2 separate regions of the Homo sapiens genome follow, and region 1 is linked to region 2. Evidence: fine-mapped expression QTL. A gene starts in region 2. The other region holds a variant in brackets. All regions are shown on one strand. Distances are between the middles of the regions. Region 1 overlaps GABRG3 (gamma-aminobutyric acid type A receptor subunit gamma3). Region 2 holds the start of GABRG3 (gamma-aminobutyric acid type A receptor subunit gamma3).

Evidence for each region. PIP is the estimated chance that this variant, and not a neighbour inherited with it, causes the effect.
Region 1: its variant is fine-mapped to the expression of GABRG3 in spleen (GTEx, PIP 0.95).

The regions. Positions count from the first base shown.
Region 1 is chr15:27,049,928-27,057,927 of GRCh38, forward strand. All of the region lies in intron 3 of GABRG3 (gamma-aminobutyric acid type A receptor subunit gamma3), which reads left to right. All of the region lies in intron 2 of LOC124903449 (a long non-coding RNA gene), which reads right to left. Among named protein-coding and RNA genes, the nearest start is that of GABRG3, 83 kb to the left of the region's middle. RefSeq lists enhancers at 2,387-2,886, 7,765-8,000. The variant G/A (reference allele first, on the strand shown) is at 4,651.
Region 2 is chr15:26,964,292-26,975,355 of GRCh38, forward strand. It overlaps GABRG3 (gamma-aminobutyric acid type A receptor subunit gamma3), which reads left to right and starts at 6,890. Exons shown (of 10, transcript NM_033223.5): 1 at 6,890-7,297. The coding sequence starts at 7,245. It also overlaps the pseudogene TVP23BP1.

The DNA of each region.
Region 1 (8,000 bases), 84 kb after region 2:
ATTGTGGATTAATTAGATAATACATCAAATGCCTGTGATGTTGTCTGAAATATGTTGAATAAGACCTATAATAAGTGGGTTTCTCTATTCTGTTCTGAGACGGGCCTTTCCAAAAGCAGAGAGGAAACACACAGCTTTTTGGTAGAGGAAGAAGATTTAAATTTAATCTCTGGTACATCCCGTTCTGATACCTATGTATATGCAGATTCTAAAGTGAGATTTAGTCTCTATATTGGGCATGGACTGAGATAGTCTCCACATGTTCTTTGATGACACACAAAGAGATTAGCCGTAGGGAAAAGACACAATATTTTACTTCCTGTATGAAGGAAGGCATTTGCTTTGAGCTGTTTCCTCCTTCTTCTGTGCTCATGCCTGAAACTCTGTCCCTGGGGCCCCCTGGTGACCCCAAACTGCATTCTCCCCTGCTTCCCGAGGGTGGGTGAAATTACTGTCCCTTTCTCGCAGGCACAGCAGGGCTGTTCAGGTCTCCAGCCAACTCCCTTCACCTGGGAGGTGGCAGGGCAGCCACACACCATTGCCTTGCCCTTCGTCCTGCTGTTCCTAGGATAAGATAGCATCTCAGGGGATCTTAGGAGGATCTCTGGGTTTTACTACCAGTAAAGCTGTAAAGCCCTTATTTGCCCAGGAGAACAAGATTTCCTCGAATACCTAAACTCAGTAATGTAGAAGCAGCTGAGTTATTAAGATTCAGACTTCTGGAGGGGGCTGTTTTTATTCTTGGGTGTTTTATTTCCAAGTGGATGACAATAAGTTATTTTTATAAACTTTTTAAATTTAATTATAATATTATTAACTATTTCTTAAGTTATAGACTAATTATCTGTAATTACAAGGAAATTACTTATAGTAGTCATACAGTATTACCACTGATTACTATATATTAAGCATTACAATTTATTACCAATAGCTGTACATATTTTGCTTATAATATGATGTTTAATATCATGGTCCTGCTATTGCAAATTATGTAGTTTTTAAACTCATGAGAGGAAGAGATTTATCCATTTTATATGGTAAGAGGAAAATGATCCAAATATGGTCAAATTTATACTGCTGTTAGCTGTAGCACATAAAAGTCATACAATGCTAGGTGTAACCAGATAAATTGAGGCAATAGGACTCAGACCACAAATTCTTTGTATTTATTAGATGACCATAGTGCAGTTGTTTTTTACATTTGCCTTAAATTCTATAGACTTTCATTCCAAAGGGAAAAAATCTAGACAAGCTACAATTGTTGACTCTCCTGTTTTCAGTCATTTTAGGTAATGATTAGACCTGACCTAAATTTACTGGCAATTTAGAATCTCAGAAGAAATGCTGTTTTATTGATTTTATTTTTTTTATTGAGGTTATGTCCCTCCAAAATGCATCTATCCATCAATGTCCATCCAGAAGATAAACTATAGTGAATTAGCCATTGTTTATAATGGATACACATTTTGATGAATAGTATATGTTGTGGACTGAATTTTGTGTCTCCCCCAAAATGCATCTGTTGAAATCCTAACTCCCAAGGTGGTGATATTAGGAGGTGTGTCCTTTGGGAAGGGGATTAAGTCATGAGGGTGGAGGCCCCACACATGGGATTAGTGACTTTATAAAAGGGACCTCAGATAACTCTTGTCCCTTCCTCTGTGTGGGGACACAGCAGGAAGATACCATCTAAGACAGTAGTCCCCAACCTTTTTGGCACCAGGGACCGGTTTCATGGAAGACAGTTTTTCCACGGACCAGGGCTGGGGGTTTCAGGATGATTCAAGTGCATTACATTTATTGTGCAGTCTACTTCTATTACTATTATATTGTAATATACAGTGAAATAATTATACAACTTATACAACTCACCATCATGTAGAATCAGTGGAGCCCTGAGCTTGTTTTCTAGCAATTAGATGGTCCCATCTGGGGGTGATGGGAGACGTGACAGATCATCAGGCATTAGATTCTCATAAGGAGTGTGCAACCTAGATCCCTTGCATGTGCAGTTCACAATAGGGTTCGTGCTCCTGTGAGAATCTAATGCTGCCACTGATCTGACAGGAGGCGGAGCTCAGTAATGTGAGTGATGGGCAGCGGCTGTAAATACAGATGAAGCTTCTCTTGCTCGCCCGCCTCTCACCTCCTGCTGTGTGGCCCAGTTCCTGACAGGCCTTGGACTGATACCCGGCCACAGATCGGGCGTTGGGGCCCCCTGATCTAAGAGGAAGAATGCCATGTCTGGTAGAAGGATGGTGTGTTCTCTGTCCCACCCCCATGAAATTTCTGGTGGGGACTGGTCTGTCTTTGTCTCTTGAGAGTGCTGAGTTACGTTGATCACAACACCTCTGATCACCTTGGGGGGGTGCTGTCACTCCCGTGCCGCAAATGGTGACCAGATCAGAGAAAGGACTCAGCCCTCAGGTGGTGGCACCATAGCCAGTGGCCAGTGGGGCCTCGGCGTGTGGCACAGGTGGTAGAAAAACTTGGCATTCTGTGGGCCAATGTGGAGTGTTAGGCCTGGAGAATCACAGAAAATCTAAGCATAAGGCCCTTCATTCCTCCTGTAACTCCTTGACAAAAGAAGTGCCACAGTGCCTGTGAGGGTGCATGATGGCAGGCCACTTCCCTCCTGCTGCTTCTAAAACACACGAAATCTAGTATCAAGACAAACAAAAATAAATGAGCAAGAAGATTCAGCAAATGGATCAGCAGATGATTAAAATACCTAATGTAGAGCTATGCTCATAGTTTAAAAAGTCTAGATACAGTGGACAATTTGGGGGAAAGATTAACCTGGATCAAAAGAAGAGGGAAACACAATTTCATACTATACTGCAAGACTACATTAACCAAAATAGCATGGTACTGGCACAAAAACAGACATACGGACAAGTGGAATAGAGTAGATAACCCAGAAATAAAGCAACACACATGCAACCAGATGATCTTTGATAAAATTGATAAAAATAAGCAATAGGGAAAGGACTCTCTGTTCAGTAAATAGTGCTGGGAAAACAGGCTAGCCACATGCGGAAGAATGAAACTGGACCCTACATATCACCATATACAAAAATTAACTCAAGGCGGATTAAAGGCTTAAATGTAAGACATCAAAATAACAAAATCCTAGAAGAAAACCTAGGAAATACCCTTCTGGATATTGGCCTTGGCAAAGAATTTATGGCTAAGTCCTCAAAAGCAATTGCAACAAAAACAAAAATTGACAGTGGGACCAAATAACTAAAGAACTTCTGTACAGCAACAGAAACTATCAACAACCCACAGAATGGGAGAAAATATTCACTATGCTTCTAATAGAGGCCTAATGTCCAGAATCTATAACTAACTTAAATCAACAAACAAAAACAAATAACCCCACTAGAAAGTGAGTAAAGGACATGGACAGATACTTCTCAAAAGAAGACATACAAGTGACCAACAAATGAAAAAATCCTCAACATCACTAACCGTCAGAGAATTGCAAATCAAAACCACAGTGAGACACCATCTCACGCCAGTCAGAATAGTTATTACTAAAAAGTTAAAAGCCAGCAGGGTTGGAGAGGCTGCAGAGAAAATGGAACACTTATACACTGTTGGTGAGAAGGTAAATTGGTTCAGCCATTGTGGAGAGCATTTTGGAGATTTCTCAAAGAAGTAAAAACAGAACTAGCAATCCCATTACCTAGTATATACCCAGTGGAAAATAAATCATTCTACCAAAACGACATATGCACTTGTATGTTCACTGCACCACTATTCACAATAGCAAAGACATGGAATGAACCAAAGTGCCCATAAATGGTGACAGAAAAAAGAAAATGTGTAAATATACACCGTGAAATACCGCGCAGCCATTAAGAAAGAATGAAGGCATATCCTTTGCAGCTACATGGATGGGAAGGTGGAGGCCGTGATCCTAAGTGAATTAATGCAGAAACAAAAATGAAATACTGCATGTCATCACTTATAAGTGGAAGCTAAATTTTGGATACACATGGACATAAAGATGGGAATAGACACTGGGGACTTCAAAAGGAGGGAGGGGCCGGGTGTGGCGGCTCACGCCTCTAATCCCTGCACTTTGACTAAGGCAGGTGGATCACCTGAGGTCAGGAGTTCGAGACCAGCCTGGCTAACCTGGTGAAACCCCATCTCTACTAAAAAAAATAGCACGCACCTGTAATCCCAGCTACTCAGGAGGCTGAGGTGGGAGAATCCCTTGAGCCCGGGAGGCGGAGGTTGCAGTGAGCCGAGATCGCACCACTATACTCCAGCCTGGGCGAAAGAGCCAAACTCTATCTCAAAAAGAAAAAAAAAAAGAAAAAAGGAGGGAGGGTGTGAGGGGGCCAAGGACTGAAAAACTGCCTGTTGGGTTCTGTGCTCACTACCTGGGAGATGGGACCGATCAAAGCCCAAACCTCAGCATCACGAAACATATCCAGGGAACAAACCTGCACGTGTACCCCCTGAATCTAAAATAAAAATAGAAATAAACAAGGAAGAAGGAAATAAGCAACACTGGAAAAAACTGTAAAAGTTATCAAAGAATTTCCTCCAAAACAGGTTCCAGAGCCAAAGTCACGTTTTTCAGAAGCAACATTCCCAAGGCTGTAAGACTTGACTGAGTGTTACAAGAAAGGC[G/A]GAAATGCATCCGTTTATTTTGTGGTGCCGCCCTGACTCCCATACAGAAAACTGGCCAGGACAACGCAGAGCTGCAGATCCGTCAGATGGAATGGATACAGATCAGTCTTGATGCCAGGGACGGTGCTTCAAAAGCAGCTATTACTCTGAAAGGACACTCAGCAGATCCGGGGGCTTCAGGTTGTGAGATGAGCTCTGTATCGAGCGGGGAGGAACAGCTGCTGTGCACCACACTGAAGCCCTGAGACCAGCGGGGAACTACCTGTCTTTATTAAGATCGACTACAAAAGTCTAAGTTACTGTCCTCGTTTTGAGGGGGACTCTGAGTGGACCCTTGGTGGAATGGTTGTCAGCCACAAAGCAAGAGCGTCAAACCTGAGAGTGAAACTGGGCAAAGTTTGTAAGTTACAGCCCAAGGGCCAAGACCTGTTTTTTTTTTTTTTTTTTTTTAAATGACTTGTCAGCTAATAATAGTCTTTACATTCTTAAAGGATTGTGAAAAACAGCAGCAGCAGCAACAACAACTAGCCCCCCAAACAAAAGAAGGCTGTGTAATAGAGACTCCGTGTCCCACACCAGAGCAGCCTGTGATAGAGGCTCCGCGTCCCGCACCGGAGCAGCCTGTGATAGAGACTCTGTGTCCCGCACCGGAGCAGCTTGCTAGCACGTCCCGGGCTTTCACCCCGTAACATCTTAAGAAGGATGGAAAGACCAATCAGTACAAAAAAATAACCTGAACTTGTTACATCTGTAACTCGGGGAAATTAGTTCTAAAGCTATCATTATTTGCTAATGTTATAAGTATTTATTTAGGAAGTCAAAAGGAGATAATGGAAGACTTAGATACAGGCGGAGCATCCCAAATCTGAAAATCGGAAATCCAGAAGGCTCCAAAATCCAAAGCTTTGTGAGCACTGACCTAATGCGACAAATAGAAAATCCCACACCTGACCTCACATGGCAGGTCACAGTCAAACGCTGGCGCAGAACACACGGTGTTTTCAGCGTTCCCATAGGAATAATAAAATTACCTTCAGGCTACATGCATAAGGTGTGTATGAAACATAAATGAATTCCTGTTTATACTTGGTTTCCATTATTAAGATATTTCATTATCTGTATGGAAATATTTTCAAATATGAAATAATCTGAGATCTGAAACACTTCTGGTCCCATGCATTTCAGATAAGGGATACCCAACCAGTAATGATGGAGATTATCAAAGGTTTGAGAACAAAGCAAAAGCATTCTCAAAAGTCATTGAGAAAAAAAAATCATCCCAGAAATACTAGGGAAATATATGGTTTTTAATTTTTAAAGAGTTTTATATTATTTTAATTGGCAAATAATAAATGCACATATTGATGAGGTACAATGTGACACTTTGATACATGTATACATTCTGCAGTGATCAACTCAAGGTAATATTTTTTAAAAATTTGCAGGAGGAGAAAAATCACAAATAGTCACAAACAGAAAATAAATGTACAGGCTGGGTGCAGTGGCTCAAGCCTGTAATCCTAGCACTTTGGGAGGCTGAGGTGGTGGGTTACTTGAGTCCAGGAGTTCGAGATCAGCCTGGGCAACATGGAGAAAACCCATGTCTACAAAAAATGCAAAATAATGAGCCAGGTGTGGTGGTACACACCTGTAGTCCCAGCTACTTGGGAGGCTGAGGTGGGAGGATCACTTGAGCCTGGGGGGAACTGAGGCCGCAGTGAGCTGTGATTGTGCCACTGCACTCCAGCCTGGTTGACAGAGTGAGACCCTGTCTCCAAAAAAAAAAAAAAAAAAAAGAAAAGAAAAAAGAAAATAAACATACATATTGAGATATTGAACCCGTTGTTTGAGTCAGGCATGGTTTTAGGTCCTGAAATGAAAATTAACACCAGACAACCAGCCTGAGAATTTGCAAGAATGTTCTAAAAGTGATCATGCAGTGCTGGAAAAAGCTGTGGAAAGAAAGTGAGAAGTGTTGTCCAGTGTTGGTGGGAGAATGAAACTGGGGTGTGTGGAGAGCGTTTGTGAGAAGCCTCCGCCGGAAGGAGCTCAGATCCTGCTGTTGGTGCTCCAAGCTCAGACTGAATGGGAAGTTCACAAGACCCCCCACGGTGGCTTCCACTGCAAACAGAAAACCAGTGGACGTGAGGATGGGAGAGGTGGTGGATGAGCGTTTTCATTAAAGTTGTTGATTTATTCTGCAATAAATGGAACTCGTTTGTAGGGTAGCTTTTTAAGAATGGCTCCAGCACACTATTCTGGATTCTTCACTGATTTCTCTTGAGACCCAAGACTGTGATCGGGAAAAAGCACCTTCTCATCATCTAGTTCCTCTGTGTGCAGTGTGTGCTTGGGTCCTCCTTAATGAAAAATATTGTCCCTGTCTCCTATCTCCTCTTGTTCAGACTCTATACTCTTCCCTGCTTATTATCAAGGGAAGGATTCAGAGACAGGGTGTGGAGTAAACATTGCTCTCATGTCCATTGTCCAGGTGGAGAAATAAACCTTCCAACAGTGGCCAGAACCCCTAACCCCAGCCCCTTCTTGAAGCTTTTAGTCCTTGATTCCATTTTTTTGGTCATCAGATTTTTAGCTGGTGGTTTTTTCCAAGGGTGGATCTTTCTTCCTAACTCACACACATGAAACTCCTCTGCTTCTTGTGCCCATTGTGGCTGACAACTTCAATAAAGAAGTTTTCCGATCTGGCCAGGACAAAAGTCACAGAACATAATTTTTATGGGATTAAAACCATTTCTGCTCTTGTAGTTTCAGTAGAGAATGTTTTCTGAAACCAGCTTACAGGAAGGCATCAACACTTACGGTGATTTATGCCTCTGATTTTTAGGAGAAAATGGTAAATGACAAGTACAATGCCTGAGATTTATTAAAACAAAAACATTTCAGAGAATGTCATGGGGTGGTTTGAGGTCTGCTCAGTTTCCTGTGCCTTATACATCTACGGGGCTGCACGATCCTAGAAGACGTGTCTGAGCCCCCTGGAAAGGCCTCTGGGCTGTGGAGGGCACCTGTGATGGAGAGAGGTGTCCTGGCCGCCAGGTCACCCTCGGGGCTCCCATTGCTCATGTCCTTCAGGTGTTTCCTAAGTAAAAACTGGTGTTGTTGTCTGGGAATCTTACCACGTACTTATTCTTTGGAAATCTATCATACCAGCAGGTGGAATCGGTGTAGTTCAGGACATTCGCCATTTAATCGAGACATAGAAAAGCCATGTTTACTTGCCTCAAAGAAGTCCCACTGATGAAGAAATAAAGGAAGTTTCCATGCACATCCACTACCAGAAGGAAAGTCATGACAGTCCGCTCCCATTGCAACTCGAGAGGATGTGTGCA
Region 2 (11,064 bases):
AACAGCTTGACTAAGTGATCAGTGTGATCCACAATGAGATAAACCAACATCGTGTGTTTCCTACAATAACGCATCAAGAAAAGCAACATTACTTATGTCATATTTCTTCCCAAAATACATAACCTGAATCTGATCATGAGAAAGACTCACACAGAGGTACATTCTACAAAATACTTTTGTCTACTGAAACTACTGTGTTGTGAAAGATCAAGAATGGCCACAACCTGTTCTGGACTAAAAACAGACCAAGTGGACACAATAACTAGTGAAATGTGTGATCCTGAATGGGTTCCTGGGCTATATGGGAAAAATGCTATTGAAGGTATTATTAGATCAGTTAGAAAAATTAGTCTATGTACTGTAGATTAGATAATATTATAGAAACTTATAGTATTATTTTTACACATTTATTTGTAAACTTGTGAATACTTCCAAGAGAACAGTTTTAAAAATTGGGGGAAAATTTAAAAGCTGATGTATACGGAGATGCAAACAACCTAGAACAGCAATAAGTAAACAAATAAATGAACAAATTCAGAGCACTAACAATAATAGATATTAAGAAAATGAAAGGCCATAGTAATTTTTTAAATGTGATATTAGGGGGCCGGCACAGGGCTACCATGTTGCATCAGTACAGTAATGATGACACTGAAGACATTTCAGTGTTGGATGTGGAAGAGACAATAACAAAACAAAACAATCCAAAATCAGATATCCAGTGGCCTCACGTTTCCAGCTATTCTTTCAAGTCTGTGCAATTGTGGTCTACCTTCTTTGCAAATTGGTCAGCAGCAGCTTTACTGCTTGTATGGTGACAACTATCTTGTCATGTGACTTTAGGGCAGTGACGAATGTCACAGGTAGACTAGTGGTGGGTCTACGGTGTTGGAATCACATGATGAAGATGGAAAGAGCCATTGGGTGCTTGAGTCCAGAAAGGCATCCTCTCGGGAGGACAAAACTGTCTCAGAGGCTGAATCAAATCTTTTGGTTGGGACTTAATGCCTGTCCAGTGCTGTGGGTGATATTTATCTTTAGTGGCCTCATCTCCTTCAGGGTAAAGTGGTTAGCAGTGGTTATCATGAGTGTGGTGCTACAAGGTGCCAACCTATATGGCTACATCAGGTGTAAATAGGCAACGGAAAGAATGTAACCAGCATGGGTCCCTCATACTTGGAAAGCAGTTTTTAAGACAAAACACTGAGGATGATCAGACTTTGTGAACAGAGAGAGAATGCTTATGTGCTTTGTTACAGTGGGGAGCAAACAGAGATTGTTGACTCTGAACATTTTAGACCTCGGTCCATGATGCAACAAGGAATGTTGGCTTTGTTTTTCACTTAAAATCTTTAGTTAAAGCAAAGCAAAGTAGTTTTCTTATTAAGTTTTTATATCCTTTCCAGTAGTTGGGGCTAGAATGCATGTTGTCACTGAAGACATTGTCAACATTTGTTTTATGGTGTACATAAAATATGCACACAGTCATGTCATATCAATATATCCCAAACTAATGAAAGTGTGTTCATTTACATATGTAATGGAGACCTTTGTATTTTGGTCCATAGAACACAGAAGGATGTTCTTAGTCTATCTCAAGCTCTATATGTTTACATATTACTTCTGTATATTACTTTCCGAAGTAAGTTTTGCTTCCACAGTAAGAGTGAGCAGCTTGGCTCATGTATACCTTAGAAATTATTGTTAATTTTTAATATATACTTCACGTTGACATTTCTTAGACATACGCAAGAAAGTAAAAACCACATTTGGGCCAGTGATGTTAACTAGTTTCTAAAATGTTATTTATTTTTATTCGTAACAAGCCATTTACTTAAGTTTATGTAAAGGGATAGTTTATGCTTAAGGGATAGCAGAGGTTGTTGCTGTTCTGTTTATTGTATAGAAAACATGGCCAGATTTTAATTTAGAACTTCCTGGAAGCTCTTCAGTGGACTTTGAGCTAATACAATATATCTTTTGTCACCAAAAGAGTATTATTCTTATGTCATAATGAGAACAATAATTTGCATGCGTGGCATAATAAATGCCTAAAAGACATTTTATTTTATGACTCTATTCTTTGCTATAATAGGGATATTGTAAATCATATATTTGTATAATATTGGTGGTATTTATTAAAGCAATAGATGTAATGGTAAACAAAAAAATATGAAAACACAAAAGAGCTTCTACAAATAAAAAGAAAGCCAACAGTCTAGTTTTAAAATGGGCAAAAGACTTAAATGACACTTCATAAAAGAAGATATTCCAATGGCTGGTAAAAATTTGAAAGAAGTTCTATGAAATCAAAACCAGAATGAAATACCAGAATGGCAGGCCAGGCGCGGTGGCTCATGCCTGTAATCCCAGCACTTTGGGAGGGCCGAGGTGGTGGATCACGGAGGTCAAGAGATCAAGACCATCCTGGCCAATATGATGAAACCCCGTCTCTATTAAAAATACAAAAAAATTAGCTGGGTGTGGTGATGTGCGCCTGTAGTCACAGCTACTCGGGAGGCTGAGGCAGGAGGATTGCTCGAACCCGGGAGGCAGAGGTTGCAGTGAGCCGGGATCGCGCCACTGCACTCCAGCCTGGTGACAGAGCGAGACTCCGTCTAATAGAAAAAAAAAAAAAAGAAATATCAGAATGGTGACAAAAATAATGGCAAGGCCACATTTCATCAAGGGTATACACCAGAACTCATATATTGCCAATGCGTGATGAATATAACTGCTTTAGAAATCTCTGTAGTAATATTTATAATCATGAAACACATGCCTTCCTTGTGATCTGGACATTCTATTTTCAGTCAGATAACCAAGAGAAATGAACACATATGTCCATCAAAAGACAAGAATATTCATGTTAGCTTTATTCATAACATCCCAAAGTTTCAAACCCAAAAATCCATTGGCATAGGAACAAATAAATAACGTGTGGTGTATTCACACAATGAACTATCATGCACAGCAGTAAAAAGTAATGAATGACTGGTAATGTAGCAATAAGGGTACATCTCACAGACACTGCACTGAGTGAGAGAAGCCGGAGGCTAAGTGGATAATACTGCATGACCACATGTATGCGAGGTGCAAGACTGGGCAAAACCAGGCTTCTGTGGCCAAAGCCTGAATAGTTGGTTACCCAGTGTCGGCACTGACTTGAAGATGGCCCAGCCACTGGGAATTACATAATTATATATTTGTTATATATAATAATCCAGATGCTATACATATGCTATTCATATACATATGGTATACACATGCGAAATAGTTCACTGAGCCATACTTTTAAGATCGGTGCATTTTTGTTGTGTGTGCATTATCCCTTGATAGTACCGTTTTGATTGACAAGGGAAAGGCGCTTTTTCAAAATATAAAACCACGAAACATCATGTAACCCAGAAGTACAGTTTTGGGAGTGGGAGAGATGTTTCTCAAAGCAGAACCTGGGGCAACCACGGAGCAGCGGATGCGCGCTGAAGGGCGCGTGGGCAGCGGGGTGGTTCCGCGGCCTGCGGGGCGCAGCGCGCCACCGCGGGATCTGAAAGGCGCTTCCTGGCAACGCTGCTAGGGTCCCGCCGCCCCCGCCGAGGTGAAGTCCAACCCGCAGCTGCGCGGGCAGCCCAGGTCTTCCCCAGAACCTCCGGAGCCGAGGACCCAGCGCCAAGCCAGGAGCAAAGCAGCGCGCCAGGCTGGAGCTGTTCCGTCATTACCGCCACGTCTGCGCTTCGGTTGTGAGAACCGATTCGTTACCCTAACCTCTTAGGACTAAGAGCCAGTCTTCTGGTGGCGCTCGCTTTCACTTACTTTTTATTTCCCTTTCTATTCCCGCGAGCTAGGGGGAGAAAGTGTAAATCCCGCCCGCTTCTCCAGGGCTGAAAATGGAGAGGCTGAGGCGGCTTGGAGAGTGCGCACTGCGCATGCTCCGCAGAGCATCCCCGCAGGTCAACCGGGGCAAGGGAGAGACATGAAAGCCTGTGGCTTCTCCTTTGAAGATTCTTTTTTTTTTTTTTTTTTTTTTTTTGAGACGGAGTCTCGCTCTGTCGCCCAGGCTGGACTGCGGACTGCAGTGGCGCAATCTCGGCTCACTGCAAGCTCCGCTTCCCGGGTTCACGCCATTCTCCTGCCTCAGCCTCCCGAGTAGCTGGGACTACAGGCGCCCGCCACCGCGCCCGGCTAATTTTTTGTATTTTTAGTAGAGACGGGGTTTCACCTTGTTAGCCAGGATGGTCTCGATCTCCTGACCTCATGATCCACCCGCCTCGGCCTCCCAAAGTGCTGGGATTACAGGCGTGAGCCACCGCGCCCGGCCCCTTTGAAGATTCTTAACCTTGCATTTTGCTTTCACACTTAACGCCTAGAAAGCTTGCTTTGATTTTTCCCCAACCTTTCAGCTCATTTAGCTTTAAAAAACAAAATCTCGTTCCAGGAAGAGGGGAGGGGCTTTCCAAGAGAAAATGTTCAGACGTATCAAGTTGACCTACTCAATCTAATAAATGAAGCGAAGCATTCCAAAGGCCAGAGGGGATCATCTTGCATTCATTCATAATAGCACGTTGAAATATGCAAGAAAGGAAAAGAATAAAGAACACAGGGATGTAAAAACAGTATTGCGTTTTCTTGTTCACTGATTGAATTGTAAAAAAAATAATAACAACAAACAAATCTCAGGACACTTCTTGTTTACTGATATTTTACAAAATCACTCAAGTAACAGTCTATTTCTATTATAAACAACTTGTGAGTATTTTAACTCATGCTCAAAAAATAAATAATATGGTAAGAAGTCCAAAACTTTCATCAACTAGCCCAACAACAAATGTCAGCTGAGCACCTACTCAGGCAGACAGTATGGTATAGTGATTAGGAATGAAACATTGGAGCCAGCTGCCTGGCTTTTAACCCCCAGTCCTCACCTACTAGCTGTGTGATCCTGGGGTAAGCGACTTAACTTCTCTGTGCTTTTTCTCTATATGCGAAACGGAAATAATGTTGTGAGAGTTAAAATGAGTTAATCAATGTAAAGCCTTCCTGTCGGCCCTGGCCCCTGTTATGTGATCAATGTCAGATGGTTATTTTTACTTATGTTCCTATTACTGTGTTAAGAAGGGAAACACAAAAGAATTGTTTCTACTTGCAGCATTCTTGCAGCACACTCAGGCGTGGTGGCTCATGCCTGTAATCTCAGCACTTTGGGAGGCCGAGGCGAGCAGATTACTTGAAGTCAGGAGTTGCAGAAGAGCCTGGCCAACATGGTGAAACCCCATCTTTACTAAAAATACAAAAATTAGCCAGGCGTGGTGGTGGGTGCCTGTAATCCCAGCTACTCAGGAGGATGAGGCACGAGAATCACTTGAACCCGGGAGGTGGAGATTGCAGTGAGTCCAGATGACACTACTGCACTCCAGCCTGGGCGATAGAGTGAGACTCAAGTCTCTTATGTGGAGACGACATAAGCAATGAAGGAACAATAAATCATCATCTAACTGATTTTTAAAGTGCTCAGATTTTGGTACAGAAAATTAGAGATTAGGGCAGAGTATGATAAAGGCTCATATTCCCCTGAAGCCTAAAGGAGTGGTACAGGTGTTGGAAGTGGAAGAATGCAGGAGCGTCAGAGTCTTCATCAAAGAGGGGACCTTATAGGGCATGTGCACCTAAGTAGGAGGGATGTGCTGGGCAGAGGAGGATGAGAATGCCAGAAAGAGTCCTGGAAAGGCGGGGAGCTGGGTGAGTTCAGCACCTCACAGAGACAGAAAGGTGATGCCAGGGAGATGACAGCTCCATTGTTGAAAAACAATATTGTCATTAACAACTGCACTCCCCTCCACTTCATGCCTATCCAGAAACAAGGGGGAACACACCAGAGGAATACAGGCCCATGCCACCATGCCCAGCTAATTCTTTACTATTTTTTGTAGAGACAGGGTTTTTGCACATTGCCTAGGCTGGTCTCGAACTCCTGGGGTCAAGTGATCCGCCTGCCTCGGACTCCCAAAGTGCCGGGGTTACCGGCTTGGGCCACTGTGCCTGGCCGAACAAAGCTATTTGACAATATTAAAGAAACAGTTATCACACCCTTACATAATTCTATGAATAGCAGTTATAAAACATTTTCTAAGAACTTTTTGGGGGTGATAGAAATGTAAAATTCCTAGTGGATTTACTACACTGTTGCGATTGCAATACTTACATGGTGCAAGACTAACTTTCTGAATGATTATGACAAATGAAAGCGTAAATGCCATTTTCGGTTTTTGGAATATGAAAATACATGGAATGAGGCGCACCTCATGCTTCCACCAAACGGAACGTCTTTGGCTTCTTGCCTTAGGATCTTTCTAGCTCCTACCTTTAACATGCCTTTCCACCTCTACTGTTTATTGCTATGTGTTAGTCTCTCTTTTCTGTAAGAAAGGCATAAATCTGGGGTGCTTTTTTCCCAAATATTCCCGCAGAAAGCCACCTTTCCAAGCACAGAATCTTATCAGTGCCTAGGAGTTCAGCCGACTTAGCACGAAGAGTGCGATGGAAGGGCTGCTTTTGGCAAACCGTCTCAACCCCGGGCGACGGCGGGCACGGGAGGTCAGGGAGCGCTGGAGGAAACCTGCACTGGGGTAGAAATGGCTGGAGGAAGGCGGACCGCGGGCTCGCTCTCATGGTGCCAACCCCGGGGACCTTTCTTCAGGCTCCCTGCGGGATCCCCAGCCTCCCCTCCCCCTCGGAGCTCCGCCCCCTTCCTGGCCTCAAACTCCGAGTCCATTCAAACCTCGCCTTCCTCGCCCTGCGCGTTGTCAGGCGTGTAATTGGGGAAACTCCTCCCCGCCGGGACCGCCTCGGAGGCGCTGCCAGGGGACAGCCGCCCAGCTGCCCCCACCTCCCAGCACAGCGCACACAGCCCCGGCCTGGGCACCCGCGCCCGCTCGCGGCTCCAGGCGGGGTGGGCGGCGCCGCGCCAGGGGGTCCCCGGCGCCCATTGCTCCCGCCGCCCGGTTGCGCGGACCGGCGCTAGTGCGCGGGTGGGGGCGGCGCGCCGCGGTGGCCCGGCGTCCCGTGTGCGTCCAGTGTGCGCCCCGCGGGGGCGCGGCCAGCGCCAGAGTAGATACCTGTCCCGCCCGCCGCGGCCAGCAGCCTCGGAGGAAGCCAGGGCAAAGAGGGCCGGCGGAGACCAGGTCCGCGCCGGAGGAAGCCGCGCCCGGCCGAGGCCCCGGACCCTGCGCCCCGAGCTCCACGGCACCATGGCCCCGAAGCTGCTGCTCCTCCTCTGCCTGTTCTCGGGCTTGCACGCGCGGTAAGTGGCGCGGGGGCCGCATCCCCGGAGGCCCCGAGCTGGGCGACAGGGCGGCGGGGGGCGCTGTCTGCTGGAGTCCCTGGCGCGCCAGCCGTCGGCTGGGCTGCGGCACGGCGGGCCGGGAGGGGACTGGGAAGTCGGTCTGCACCTCACCTGTCCCAGCTCCCTTGGACACGGTCATCTGCTTTTTCCTCTGCAGCCGGGAGTGTGGGGACTCAGATTAATGGGCTCGTCTCCTGACGCTTTTAGGATCTGGTGGTTTTAAGGGGTTTTGAGAACCAGGTTCAGGGGGCAGGGGCCATTTCTGGCTCCTTACCGACCCCTAATTCCCACCTCAGCTGTTTCAGGGGCTCACACACACACACACTTTGGCTGACATTCTCTGTCATTTCCATCACTCTGAAATTTCCAAGAACCCGGGAACCGTGGTTCTAACTGCCTAGTTTAGACCGGGCTGGAAAGAGCTAATGCATTGGAGGCAGGCGCGGGGGGATTGGAACCAGGTGGGCAGAAGAAAGCCCTGCTTGTCTGGGAGGACTCCCCTCCCAGGTCCTGCAAACACACACACACACCTTCCACATCAGCCACTTTCACACAGAGGAACACACGCACTCCCACCCCCATAAAGCACGCATGTCGAAATGGATAATAAGGCTTCTGCCTGGTAATGTAAGAAATCATCTCACCATAAATTCCGCAACCTTCCTCCCAGTACACCAACCGGCTAATGGGAGCTTAGAATCACTCTAGAAGAGATGAAGAGGGCGCATGAGGATACAAGGACAGTGGGACCCAAAGGGTTAAATCCTGTTGCTGTAAACACAACTGGAGATTCTGGGTTTAGTTTCTTTAATTCTGTCTCTCTGGCTGGATTTCTGGCTAGAGCTTGCAGACTGTCCTGTTATTTGAAAATTGGAGCAGTGTCTGGCCTTTACCTCTTTCCCCACCCTAGGAAGCTCAGCGTGCCCCTATCCCCCAAACCCTCTTGTTTTGACGCTTCTCCATTTCCTGGGTCTGGGAGCTAGAGAATCAGAGGGCATCCTTGCGTGCACAAGCCTGGCCACCATCAGGAGGCAATGCCAGGAGGCCTTGCCTTTTCATTCCTATTTGTGAACTACCAAGGAGCTAGGAAGACACATGAATAAATCCTACTAAACATGAAGGGGGCCCCCAGTTCTCACTCCTGAATTGGGCAGGGGTGCTTACCCTGAGGAAGGAAGCCCTGGCCCTCCCCCTTGCAACTGCTCCTCTTTGCTGAGTTGAGTGTGGAAGCCGACTCCACCGGTGACTCACAGGCAACTCTTTCAAAGAGACAGAGCACTCCTTGGGCCTTTCAGCTGAAGTTTCTTTCTGTCTCAAGAGGCAGCTGGTGCAAGCAATGGAAACATGCTTTCTGAGGTTGCTTCTTCCTGGTTGTATCTCTGTTTAGAGATGGAGAGGGAGGCAGACAGCACCGGGCATAACGCTGAGGCCGGCAGTCACATCTCTGCCACCTTTCTATTGCCACCAACTCAAACGAGTGACCAGCCGTTCAGGGTTCAGTAATCAACTGTTTAGGTCTCTGGATTCTTAACATTCTAGAAGAAACACTGCCTATTGTCCTCACTACTGCATGTGCTTAGTAGGAAGATACCTCAGCCTCTGCCTTAAAACAGTCCGGTTACTGGGGATTCCCAAATATACACAAAATCTCTTGGGATTCTTCATCCTTCCATTCTACTAAGACAGACATAATGATTTTCATTTGTTCTCTATTTGGGCTCGTTCCCCAGCTTTCATAATAGAGCTTGCAGATCAGTTAAAAAATCCAAATTTTATACTAACTTTATTGCTATATGCCTCTTCTTTGAGAGTGTCTTTGTTCTCTGAATGGGTTTTACAGACATGTGAAATAATCTGATGTGCAGTGTCATCTTTCAAAACTGTTTTAAATTTGGAGGGGTTTCTCATTTGCACTCTGAGTCCCTTCCTGCTGTGGAAGTTCCTTGGATAAGGGTCTGATGGCTGTGCTTTGTGGTGATGGCTCAGCAGCTCCCCAGAAGGGGGGACTCCCCATTTTGACACCCATGGGCATCATAAAACGCACTGATTCCCACTCAGACCTTGGTGATGCCTTAACTGCTTTCTGAGGTTTAGGAACTCCTTTTAATGCTTAAAAATACTTCAGACTTTTTCTCTGTCCTTCCGCTTTAAGCTAAGGTGTAAGACATGAAAATAACATCTGAAGGTTGAGTTGTTGTTTGACTATGACAATACATCACTGATTTATTTTTAAGGAAAAGCTAATTTCAGTAATGGTGTTTAGGATCCAACAATGCAAGTAACAGTGCTCATAAAGATTATATATAACTTACTTAGAATTTAGGGAAAAGAGAATATTTCTATATTATCCACATTCTAATGGGTCCCCTGAGATGAGATTTCATTTTTGTCAAAGCAAGGATTTTCCTGTGGGCCTGGTGGTCTGGCACTAGCAATGTGAGGCTTCTATTTCATTTTCAGGATTTGAGGGAGAAGGGTGCTCACTGCCCAGGGACCTAGAGCATCTCGGCCTCACTCTGCCCACTGCCTACCCAACCAGGCTACACAGCTGGGGCCCTGATATGCCTCCCAAAGGGGTGGAAGAGAACGTTCCTGCTTTCTTTTTCTTGGTCCCCCTCACTGCCACCTGTCCTGGCCTCTAAGGAGGAAGCGCTTGCAATTTCAGGAAAACCCTCTCATCACCACTAGAGGGAGAATTAGGCTTATTACAATACCTGTAAGTAGCTGGAAGTAATTTTTAAAAACTAAGGCTGCGTATATAGAGAATGATGAAAAGCTGGTTACTGTGCTCGGTTTGTGTGTATGTGATTATCAGGGCCATAGACAATAACACAGGGTGGAGGCTGTGGTCTGGCTCTGTAGTGGTGGGGGTAGGAGAGGGGAGGAGAACGGGAGGGGAGGGGAAGAAGAGTGAGGCAGACCCCCTCACAGTGCCCAAGACAGAGACAGCAGAGGGAGGGAGGAAGGCACCTGGGCTGAGTCGCCAAGTGTCCTGAGCATGTTGTGCCTGATTCTGCTGAGATGAGCTACCGGCCTCTCCTCACTGCCCCAGATGCCCTTGCTGTGGAGTGATTTGCCCTGTCCCGTGGGCAGTGCTTGATTCCCAGCTATCTAAATGCTTCAACCTGCTCTTTAAGTTTTAAAAAATTTTTGCAAGATGATAAAATTAACATTTCTGATAATATTTCAGATGACACGAAATATTTTTTAAATTTATTATTATTATTATTATTATTATTATTATTATTATTATTATTATTTGAGATGGAGTCTCGCTCTGTTGCCCAGGCTGGAGTGCAGTGACACTATCTCGGCTCACTGCAACCTCTGCCTCCTGGGTTCAAGCAATTCTCTTGCCTCAGCCTCCTGAATAGCCAGGACTACAGGCATGTGCCACCATGCCCCGCTAATTTTTTTTGTATTTTTAGTAGAGACGGGGTTTCACCCTGTTGGCCAGGCTGGTCTGGAACTCCTGACCTCAGATGACCCACCCGCCTTGGCTTCCCAAAGTGTTGGGATTACAGGCGTGAACAACCATGCCCGGCCAGATGACATGAAATATTTTAGAGTAACATTTAAAATTCTGTAGTATTACTTGTAAATGTTCACTTTAATAAATAATGAAATGCAACATATTCCTTACTGAATAGGTGCCCCACATTTAAAAATTCCTATCGATCGTGAATATCCAATGTGCATAAAAATCAACAGCAATTTATAGTTTC